Regions from separate parts of the Homo sapiens genome. Here all the other regions are linked to region 2. Evidence: fine-mapped expression QTL. A gene starts in region 2. Each other region holds a variant in brackets. All regions are shown on one strand. Distances are between the middles of the regions. Region 1 overlaps ATXN2 (ataxin 2). Region 2 holds the start of SH2B3 (SH2B adaptor protein 3). Region 3 overlaps SH2B3 (SH2B adaptor protein 3). Region 4 overlaps ACAD10 (acyl-CoA dehydrogenase family member 10).

Region 1 (2,682 bases), 67 kb before region 2:
CCAGCACTTTAGGAGGTGCTGGATGAGCCATCACACCCAGCCAAGTCATAGGTTTTTTTGTTTGTTTGTTTTTTGAGACAGTGTCTAACTCTGTCACCCAAGCTGGAGTGCAGTGGCATGATTTCAGCTCAGTGCAGTCTCTACCAATTGGGCTTAGGTGGTCCTCCCACCTCAACCTCCCAAGTAGCTGGGACTAAAGGTGCGCGCCACCATACCTGGCTAATTTTTGTATTTTTTGTAGAGACAGGGTTTCGAATTCCTGAGCTCAAGCAGTCTGCCTGCCTTGACTCCCAAGGTGCCAGGATTACAGGCATGAGCCACTGCACTCAGCCCTCACAGTTTTAATTACAGTTTTTCCCTTAGTTTTTGTCTTGTTCATATCCAGCTTGTCTTGTATTTTTTTCCCACGATCTGAATTTTGCTGACTGTATCCCTGTGTTGATATTTAAAGTAGACTTCTGTCCCCTGTAATCTTTGTAAACTGATAGTAAATAATGAAGGCTTGATCAGATTGGGTTTTTTTTTTTTTTCCCCAATGTTTCACAGATGTGTGTACTTTCAGTGAGGAGTCATGTAATCAGTCTTTTTCCTGATAGGAGTAGTCAGTGAGTTCCTAGATGTTTTATCTATCCAGGAGATAATATGTCCCTTTAGCGCCTTAATTTTTTTGGTGTGTTTTTTAGCAGCCATTGATGATAATTGTCTAGCCCAAGATCAGTTATTTCCTTAGGGGTTGTAAAATGGTGACATTCTTTTCCTTTCATCCCTTCTTCAATTATTGCCTGGAATATTTCTATAAAGAAAAACTTTCCCATATCCAGCTGTTTGGTTACCCTGAGGTATAGCTTTCTTAGGAAAAGTAATTTAAAATGTTAATCATTTCCCTTTTTAAGGCAGTCTTCAAAATAATGAGTTGGTTTTCTGTTATCCTCCAAAGGTAACCAGTGAGGTGGTTTTTTTGTCGTTGGTTCTTACTATCAGTATAAACTTCTGGAATTTTTTTTTTTTTTTTAATTTTTTGGAGACAAGGTCTGGCTCTGTTACCTAGGCTGGAGTGCAGTGGGATGATCTGGGCATACTGCAGCCTCAACTTCCCGAGCTAAGGCAATCCCCCCACCTCAGCCTCCCAAGTAGCTGGGACTACAGGCAAGCACCACCGTGCCTGGCTTAATTTTTGTATATTTTGCAGAGACAGGGTTTCACCATGTTGCCCAGGCTGGTGTCGAACTCCTGAGCTCAAGCAGTCTGCCTGTGTCAGCCTCACAAAGTGGTGGGACTACAGGCATGAGCCACCATGGCAGGCCAGAATCACAATAAACTTATAAATTAACTTGAGAAGAAATGATTGATGTCTTCATGATGTTGAGTCTTCCTGTTCAAGAACAAAGTATACCTTCAATAGCATATTAAAGTTTATCCTTGGCTGGATGCAGTGGCTGACGCCTGTAATCCCACCTCTTTGGGAGGCAGAGGTGGGCAGATCACCTGAGGTCTGGAGTTCGAGACCA[G/C]CCTGGCCAACATGGTGAAACCCCGTCTCTACTAAAAATATTTTAAAAAAAGTATTAGCTGGGTGTGGTGTGCACCTGTAGTCCCAGCTACTCTGGAGGCTGAGGTAGGAGAATCGCTTGAACCCAGGAGGCAGAGAGTGCAGTGAGTCAAGATTGCACCACTGCACTCCAGCTTGGGCAACCGAGCGACACTCTGTCTCAAAGAAAATAAATAAATAAAAATAAAGTTTATCTTTAAGGTTTTGTACATTTTTTTCAGTGTATGCCTTAGGTAGGTTCTTTTTTAATGTTAGTGTAACCCAGGGACTTCTCTTCCATTGCATCTTCTAAGTAATTACTTATGAAGTACCATATATGAAGGCTATTGCTGTTTATATGTTAGTTTTTACCCTGCTCCTTTACTAAATTCCAATCCTTTGAGGTATTGGATAAAAATATTTTTAGCATTTTTCAAATAACAGGCAGAGTCAAGGGCTTGGTTTCTTTTCTTCCCCTCCTGTCCCCTACCCTCCCCTTTTTTGAGACAGGGTCTCACTTCTTCGCCGAGGCTGGAGTGCAGTGGTGCAGTTACGGCTTACCGCGGCATCTGCCTCCCTGGCTGAAAAGTTCCTCCCACCTCAGCCTCCTGAGTAGCTGGGACCATAGATGCACAGCACCGCAGCTGGCTAATATTTTTGTATTTTTTGTGGAGGCAGTGTCTCCCCATGTTGCCCAGGGTGGTCCCAAACTCATGAGCTCAAGCAGTCCGCTCGCCCTGGCCTCCTAAAGTGTAGGGATTATAAGCGTGAGCCACTGCGCCTGGCCTGGGGATCATGTTTTAACATGAGAATTAGTGGAGACAAACACATGATATCTAAATAATAGCACCATAGTATACTTGACTAGCTTTTTAATTATTTTTTAAATATACAGGAAGGTAATAAGTAACAAAGTAATAATAGTGAATAGTTTAAGCTCAGTTAGCATAATCGGGCAAACTTTCATTTGATAAAAGTGATAAGTAGTTTTCAGTGGCTTTTTTGTTTACCAGAAGGAGGTGGTTTTTAAATACGTGCATCCAAGATAAAATATAAAAAAATGTTCAGGTTTGCTTTCCTACATAGATAAAATAATATGTAACTAGCTCTCCCAAATTTCAGCAACAGTTAGTGAATGTTTAGCCACAAATTTGCAG
Region 2 (2,682 bases):
CTGCCACCAAAGCTGGCCTTGCCGACATTGCCTTGCCGGGGCCTCTGCTCTGAACCCCCCACCAGATTTCACTTCCTCCCACTCAGCCCAGCCTGGCCGTGCCCCTCCCTGGAGGCCCCCAGCTGCAGGCAGTGACCTCCTCACCTACATCATTGTGGCTGGGAATGGGGAAGAGAAACAGGAGAATGAGGAAACTAAAGAAAAAAAGAAGCGGGACAGGCAGGCAGACCCTCCTCTCCAGTTCCTCAAATGCAGTCCCCCTCCCTCAAAACAAAGCTCCCCTGGCCGGAGGGAGGGAAGGGAGGGAAGGGGATTTCTGCACCAGGCATCAGAGACCTCTGAAATACCATCCCTACCGTGCGGATCTAGAAGACCAACACCCACTCCAGACGTTTTTTGGTCGGGGGATTCCCAGGGAACCCCAGGCAAGAGGTGTGAGAGGATCAATACCAGAAACCTGTCTCTGGGACGCCTAGCCCTGGTGAACCGCCCAATTCAGCAGCATGCGGGGGCCTGGCCCGGTCGACCTCGGCAGTGCAGGAACTGGGGAGAGGGGCTTCCTGAATCAGGGCGCTACCCTCTTAGCCACATGGCCCGGAATGGGGAGTGGGGAGGGGCCGGCGCATCCTCCCCCGCTGCCCCCACACCCAAGGGCTCATCTGTGCTCACAGCCTCAGTTTGACTACTTTCACTTTCAGGGTAGCAATGGGTGACCCCTGACCGCTCCTCCCCAGGCACAAGTTGAGGGGAGGGCCGCCCCCAACCGGCGAGGCTACCGTAGGGTGGGCTGGGGGCGTCAGCGATGCCCTCTCCCCCATCCCACGGCCTCAGTTACCCCAACGCTCTCCCTAACACGTGTGTGGGTGGGGGTAGTGGCTGAGTGGGGGGTCGTAGGCGCTGGGAGCCGTCACCCCGGAACGCCTCCATCCGAGTTGGCTGCAGGGCAGTATTTTGGGCTGGGGGTGACGCGCAGAGCCCGGGCAGAACTGGACACGGGGCCTCCTCTTTCCCCACAAAAGCCCTCCCGGCCCCGGAGGAGGGGAGCGCGGGCAAACGCGGGCTCACCTGAGAGACAGGAGCTCTGGGCCCGGCCGGCCCATGGCGTCGCGCGCCCCCGGGCCCTCGAAATCCCGAGGGGGCGGGCGGGCCCCCGCCCTGGGCGCGTCCTCTCCCGCCCGCCGGCTCCTCGCTCGCGGCTCGCTCGAGCGGGGCTCAGGCAGGAAACCCGGGCTCGGAAAATGGCCAGCGCCTCATCATTTCCGCCGCCAGCGCTTGACAGTTGCGGGAGGATGCGCCCCCGGGCCGCCGCCGCCGGGGAAACTTTGCAGCGGCCGCCGTCGCCACCGCGGGCCGCGACAGTCCGGGCGGGCAGCCGGGCGGAGGCGGTGGCCCGGGCCCATGCCGCCCCGCGCCGTTATGTAAAGAGGAACCGGCCGTGCGAGCGGAGCCCGGCGGGGGAGGCCGGCCGCGACAGGGGCGGGGCAGGGGCGGGGCCACCAGGAGCCACGCCTCAGGCCGCGCGCGAGTCGGAGATTCGGCTGGAGGGGCGGGCCATGAGGGCGGAGCCCGGACTGGCCCCGCCTACCAATCCCGCTAGTCCGCGGCTGCCAGGGTCGGAGGGCTCTCCTGGCGCGGGTCCGGAAAAAGGCGAGGCCTTGCGAAGCCACGCCCACCACGTGCCCACCCGATTTCGCGTCCCACAGTCTGAAGATAGAAGTGAGGATCGGAGGGGCGGGGCGACTTTAGCCCCACCCACTCAACGCCGGCAGGTCACCAGGTGCCTCAGCGCCTGGAGGCGGGGCCAGATGAAGGGGCGGGGCCTAGGGCGGGCAGGGTCGAGGGGCCTGGCCTCCAGGGGGCGCGCCCTTGCTGACTCCCTCCTGCAGGGCCTTATCAGTGCCCGCAGGGCTGGGCGGTGCAATAGCGACCACGGCTTTCATCATCGCCCCAGGGAGGGAGCCCAGCCCTGCCCGACCCTGACTATCTGCGATCATGCTGACCCGACCCGCCACGGCCCCAGGCCCCCGATTTGGGTTCTGGCCCCAGCCCTCAGCTTTGCCTTTGCTACAGCCGGTGCCCGTATAGCCCAGCCTCGCTCCGGCCGCCCGTCCTGTCCCCCAATTCTAGGAGGGGTGCATCTTTCTCCAGGAAGCCCTCTCCGACCGCTGGCTTCCGTGGCCTCTGCGCCCACCCCCCTGCCCGCCCCCGGGCTACTTACATTTTCTCCACGGCCTCATGGGGAGCTGAGACGGACAGTGGGGTTCCCCCTAGTCCGGAGTGGGACATGCTCTCAGCCAGCCTCTCCCCCAACATGTGGGAGGGCGGGGAGGGAGGAATGTACTCTTCTCCCCCTCCCCCAACAGGAAACAAGTCGCCCACGCCCCCAGCTTGGAGGGGCCACCTCGAGTCTTCCCAGGCAGCAAGTGTCTCCATTCCACTGCCTCCCCCTCTTCCTACCCGGGCAAATGACTTGACTTCTCCGTACCTCTCCACTTCCTTGCCTATGAAATGGAAATAATGTGTACCCACTCTCCTGGCAGTGAGAATTAAGTGAGTTAATGCATTAAAGCAGTTAGCTCGAGGCTTGGCTCCAGGAAGCTCTCTGTGTTAAACAAATCGGCCCCAGTCCTGACCTTAGAACTACAGGAAGGGGTTCCCCAGAAGGTGGGGATTTCCAGACTC
Region 3 (2,682 bases), 35 kb before region 2:
TATGGAAAATACTTAATCCAAGCTTACTGTCTAGTATCAAAAAGTTAACCTACTTGGGAAGCTGAGGCAGGAGAATCACTTGAACCTGGGAGACAGAGGTTGCAGTGAGCTGAGATCACACCACTGTACTCTAGACTGGTCGACAGAGTGAGACCCTGTCTTAAAAAAAAAAAAATTCCTTGCCTTCTTCCAAAAATGATTTTAGTCAGGTTAGAGACACCCAGAAAGAGCTGGGAGACAGCTGCTACAACACAGACAAGAGTCCCTCTTGCCACAGATTTGTCTCAGCTTCCTGGCAGCCAATGCAAAGGATTCTCCGAGAGAGGACAGTCATTTGTGGAAAGAGAATGCTGCTGCTTAGCTCCATTAAAGACTCTGAGAAGTCCTGCAGCAGAGAAACCTATTAAACCCATGCATTACCCAGACTTTGACCTATTTCATAGACCTTATTACCATCCCAAGGTAATATGGGATTGAGGTGAGGAAGGTCCTCACCTCGCAAACTCTCCTTAAACGTGGTGCGTCTCAGCCATTCTCTGGGGTGGGCAGCATCAAGACTGAGCCTAGTTGCTAAAAGCCATCCAGTATCCTGCCCAGAAATCCCTCAGGGCTACAGAACCATGCAGCAACTCCACCACCCTGAGGTTTGGGACACTTAGTCCTGTGCTTGAGTCCCAACTCTGCCTTCTCTTCCATAGGTAAGTGACTCACCTCTCCTAGCCTCAGTTTCCAATTTTTTTTTTTTTTTTTTAAGAGATAGGGTCTTGCTCTGTGGCCCAGGCTGGCTCACTGCAGCCTCAAACTCCTGGGGGCTCAAGTGAGCCTCCTGCCTTGGCCTCCCAGGTAGCTGGGATTACAGACACATGCCACCACATGTGGCTGATTATTTTTTTGTAGAGATAGAGATAGGATCTCGCTATGTTGTCCAGGCTGGTCTCAAACTCCTGGCTCAAGTGATCCTTCTGCCTCGGCCTCCCAAAATGAGTCTCCACGTGTGTGTATGTGTGTATTTTGTTTTTGAGGCAGGGTCCCTCTCTGTTGCCCAGGATAGAGTATAAACTAGCTCACTGCAGCCTTGACCTCCTGGGCTCAAGCAAGAGTCTGCATTTTCTAAGGTGGGATAATAATGCCACTACCCTTCCCTGAGAATATGAGCATAGTGTGTGCAACAGAGCTCCCAGAGGGTATGGAAGGATCTCAGGGGAATGGTAAGGCAGGGAGGAGCACAGGGCCTTAGGAGCTCAGCCTTAAGAGAGACTTGGGAGCAAGAAGGCCCCTCCCTGGGCAGCCCTCCTGAGTTGTCACTCCCCTGCTCCCATGCACCAGAGGCTCAAGAAGGCCTCCCTCTTCCTTTTCCATCTTTCGGTCTTGGCCCAGCACAGAGAAAGG[A/G]GCAGTAGCGTTTGCTGAATATTCTCCGAAGTGGGGATGGTGGAGAAAAAGGCACTGGAGGTTAAGGGAATAGCAAGAGCCAACACCCAGAGGGCAGAAGGCACAGCCCCAGGCTAGAAGACAACAGGGGCTTGACTGTGGCTGGAAATGACGCTCACAGACCCCACACCACCCTTTAGTGAGCATCTGCTGTGTGCCAGGCATTGGAGCCTGGGTGGCCCACCAGCAGTTTCCAGATTGTGGAATTCACAGGCCGGCAACATTTTTCAAAAAGTTTTCCAAGAGGAAGTCACAGAAATGGGCGTCACACCATCAAGGACACGACGAAACCAAGTAGGACGTCATGGTTCCAGAGCAAAGGACAATCCTGGGCATCATGGACAGTGAGATTTATGAAGGAGAAGCCTCACCACCCTGCCCCGGGCCAGCTCCGTGCAAGGAGCAGTGTGTGTGAGCCTCACGTGGCCCTCCTGTGCCTTCACCTACTTCACAGATGAGAAGGCTCAAGAGACCTCCAAGGGGGAGGGAACACAGCACAGGGTGCTTCTATGACCTTCTGGCACAGGACATCTGGAAGGGAGTTTGGAATCTGCATTTTAACATGGGACCTGGGTGGATCTGAAACCCACCGGCGTCTGAGCTGGCTGGGGTCTGAGGGAGGTCAAGAGAGCTGGGCAGGGAGGCCTCTGTCCCCCATCTTCCCCCCAGATGCCAGGGAGCCACAGAAGATGTGCAGGAGGGGAGGCACGGCCCATCCCTCAAAGGCAGAAAGTGGTGGATGCTGGGAGCTGAGCAGCCAGGATTCCAGTCCCAGACAACTGCTGGGGGAAAGGGGTATTCACAAGGAGCCCCCAGTGAGGAGAGAGGAGCCAGGCTGGAAAACAGTGTGACACCTGGGCCCTCTGGGAGTTGGGCAGCATCAAAAACTGCCATCTGTCCCATCAGACTACGCCCAAGTCTGTCCAGAATTAGCTATTTCCACCCCCACGATGCTGCTCCAGCCTACCCTCCTCTGCTCAAAACTCCCCTGCAGCTACAGGAGGCTGAAGCAGGGAGGTTGAGGCTGCCGTGAACTATGATGGTGCCACTGCACTCCAGCCTCGACAACAGAGCAAAATCTCATCTCAAAAGAAACTCCCGGCTGGGCGCAGTGGCTCACGCCTGTAATCCCAGCACTTTGGGAGGCCGAGGCGGGCAGATCACAAGGTCAGGAGTTCAAGACCAGCCTGGCCAATATGGTGAAACCCTGTCTCTATTAAAAATACAAAAATTAGGCCAGGTGCGGTGGCTCAC
Region 4 (2,682 bases), 320 kb before region 2:
TTGTAGATGAGACCTGGGCAGTACTCCATCACATAGAAGGGGGTGCCAATGACACTGGGAGGAACACAGAAGGGGTTTCAGGGATCAGAGTCATAATGTGGCAGGCTGTTAGTCATGACCCTATTCTTTGTCACTTTCCCTGGGTATACAGGTTGAGAGCTGGTGAAGAGTTCAGACCCAGAGCACTGGATACTTCCTTTTTCCTTTCACATAAGCACAGTGCATTAGAAGTATCCTCTCTTGCAATGGATCGATCCACATACATGCACACACACATATACATACACACGTGCACACACACACATGCACACCCATCTATGCTTCTTGGACAGCATGCTTTTCTCTTCTCCCTGGTTCATTTGTGTAAGCCACAGGAATGGATTCAAAGTGTAATAATGTAGCAAGCAGCAAGGCTCAGAGAAGGACCTCTGGAGTCACACCGAACCAGGTTTTTATTTTTTGTTTATTTATTTATTTATTTTTTAATTTTTTGAGACGGAGTCTCGCTCTGTCACCCAGGCTGGAGTGCAGTGGCGCGATCTCGGCTCACTGCAAGCTCCGCCTCCCAGGTTCATACCATTCTCCTGCCTCAGCCTCCTGAGTAGCTGGGACTACAGGCACCCGCCACCACGCCCGGCTAATTTTTTGTATTTTGAGTAGAGACAGGATTTCACCGTGTTAGCCAGGATGGTCTTGATCTCCTGACCTCGTGATCCACCCGCCTTGGCCTCCCAAAGTGGTGGGATTATAGGCGTGAGCCACTGCTCCCGGCCTATTTATTTATTTTTTTGAGATGGAGTCTTGCTCTGTCGCCCAGGCTGGAGTGCAGTGGCGCGATCTTGGCTTACTGCAACCTCCTTCTCCTGGGTTCAAGCGATTATCCTGCCTCAGCCTCCCAAATAGTTGGGACTCCAGGTGCATGCCACCACGCCTGACTAATTTTTGTATTTTTAGTAGAGATGGGGTTTCACCATATTGGCCAGGCTGGTCTCAAACTCCTGACCTCAGGTAATCTGACTGCCTCAGCCTCCCAAAGTGTTGGGATTACGTGTGTGAGCCACTGCACCTGGTTGGAACCAGGTTTAAATCCCAACTCTGCTCTTAGTTGAAGAGTGACCCTGAGAGACTTATTAAACCTCTCTGAGCTTTGTTGTTGAGATGGAGTCTCGCTCTGTTGCCTAGGCTGAAGTGCAGTGGTACGATCTTGGCTCACTGCAACCTCCGCCTCCCGGGTTCAAGTGATTCTCCTGCCTCAGCATCCCGAATAGCTGAAACTACAGGTATGTGCCACCACAACCAGCTAATTTTTTGTATTTTTAGTAGAGACGGTGTTTCACTCTGTTAGCCAGGATGGTCTCAATCTCCTGACCTCGTAATCCATCCGCCTCAGCCTCCCAAAGTGCTGGGATTACAGGCGTGAGCCACTGCACCCAGCCATGTTGTTGTTTTTTAATCTGTAAAACATACATACTTCAAAGGGTAATTGCAAGAATTAAGGGAGCTTCCAGGGTATTTGTTACTTAAAAAAAGAAATGAATTAGGGAACAAACA[T/C]ACAGAGTGCCTGACATGGTCTCTGGTTCCAATAAGGGTTCAATAAGTATCCCTTCTTGTTATTGAGGTTATTTTTATCATTTTTTGGTGGTATGAGTGGTGTATATACCACCCAGCAGTACTAAGGTGACCCAATGACATGTCACTAATCCATCTTTTGGTCATTACTAGCAAACAGTTTACTACTCTATTTATTTATTTATTTATTTTTGAGATGGAGTCTCACTCTATCACCTAGGCTGGAGTGCAGTGGTGCGATCTTGGCCTACTGCAAACTCTGCCTCTCAGGTTCAAATGATTCTCCTGCTTCAGCCTCCAAAGTAGCTGGGACTCCAGGTGAGCGCCACCATGCCCAGCTAATTTCTGTATTTTCAGTAGAGACGGGGTTTCACCACGTTGGCCAGGCTGGTCTCAAACTCCTGGCTTCAAGTGATCCATCTGCCTCAGCCTCCAGTTTACTACTCTAAAAAATTGTTTTGAAAATCCTACCATTACAAATGTTTCAAGTTGAAAAATTATTACAAAAGATGTTTTGGATTGGGGAAATTTGAACATGGGTTAGATATTCAGTATTATTATTAAATAATTGTTAGTTAGGTATACTGGTGTTGTGGTTATGAAAAACAATGTCGGCCGGGTGCAGTGGCTCATACCTGTAATCCAGCACTTTGGGAGGCCGAGGCGGATGGATCACTTGAGGTCAAGAGTTTGAGACCAGCCTGGCCAACAAGGCGAAACCCCGTCTCCATTAAAAATACAAAAATTAGCCGGGTGTGGTGGCACATGCCTATAATCCCAGCTACTTGGGAGGCTAAGGCAGGAGAACTGCTTGAATCCAGGAGGCAGAGGTTGCAGTGTGCCCAGACCGCGCCATTTCGCTCCAGCCTGGGCAACAGAGTGAGACTCCATCTCAAAAAAAAAAGAAGAAGAAGAAAAGAAAGGAAAAAAAAAAAGACAGGGTCTCACTCTATCATCCAGCCTGGAGTGCAGTGATGTGATCACAGCTCACTGCAGCCTCCACCTCCCAGGCTCAGGTGATCCTCCCACCACAATCTTCCGGGTAAGTAGGTAGGACTACAGGTGTGCACCTCCACGCCTGGCTAATTTTTTGTTTGTTTTTGTAGAGATGGG

What was found. PIP is the estimated chance that this variant, and not a neighbour inherited with it, causes the effect.
Region 1: its variant is the best candidate, but not a certain one, in a credible set for the expression of SH2B3 in whole blood (TOPMed, PIP 0.76).
Region 3: its variant is the best candidate, but not a certain one, in a credible set for the expression of SH2B3 in pancreas (GTEx, PIP 0.55).
Region 4: its variant is the best candidate, but not a certain one, in a credible set for the expression of SH2B3 in whole blood (TOPMed, PIP 0.59).

The regions. Positions count from the first base shown.
Region 1 is chr12:111,471,613-111,474,294 of GRCh38, reverse strand. The region is part of intron 18 of ATXN2 (ataxin 2); the gene reads left to right. Among named protein-coding and RNA genes, the nearest start is that of SH2B3, 67 kb to the right of the region's middle. The variant G/C (reference allele first, on the strand shown) is at 1,509.
Region 2 is chr12:111,404,661-111,407,342 of GRCh38, reverse strand. It overlaps SH2B3 (SH2B adaptor protein 3), which reads right to left and starts at 1,420. Exons shown (of 8, transcript NM_005475.3): 1 at 1,066-1,420. RefSeq lists silencers at 1,082-1,661, 1,782-1,941.
Region 3 is chr12:111,439,430-111,442,111 of GRCh38, reverse strand. The region is part of intron 2 of SH2B3 (SH2B adaptor protein 3); the gene reads right to left. LOC124903019 (a long non-coding RNA gene) reads left to right here. Exons shown (of 2, transcript XR_007063462.1): 1 at 1-2,682. Among named protein-coding and RNA genes, the nearest start is that of SH2B3, 35 kb to the right of the region's middle. RefSeq lists an enhancer at 1,424-1,968. The variant A/G (reference allele first, on the strand shown) is at 1,390.
Region 4 is chr12:111,725,334-111,728,015 of GRCh38, reverse strand. It overlaps ACAD10 (acyl-CoA dehydrogenase family member 10), which reads right to left. Exons shown (of 21, transcript NM_025247.6): 9 at 1-54. Among named protein-coding and RNA genes, the nearest start is that of ALDH2, 40 kb to the left of the region's middle. The variant T/C (reference allele first, on the strand shown) is at 1,552.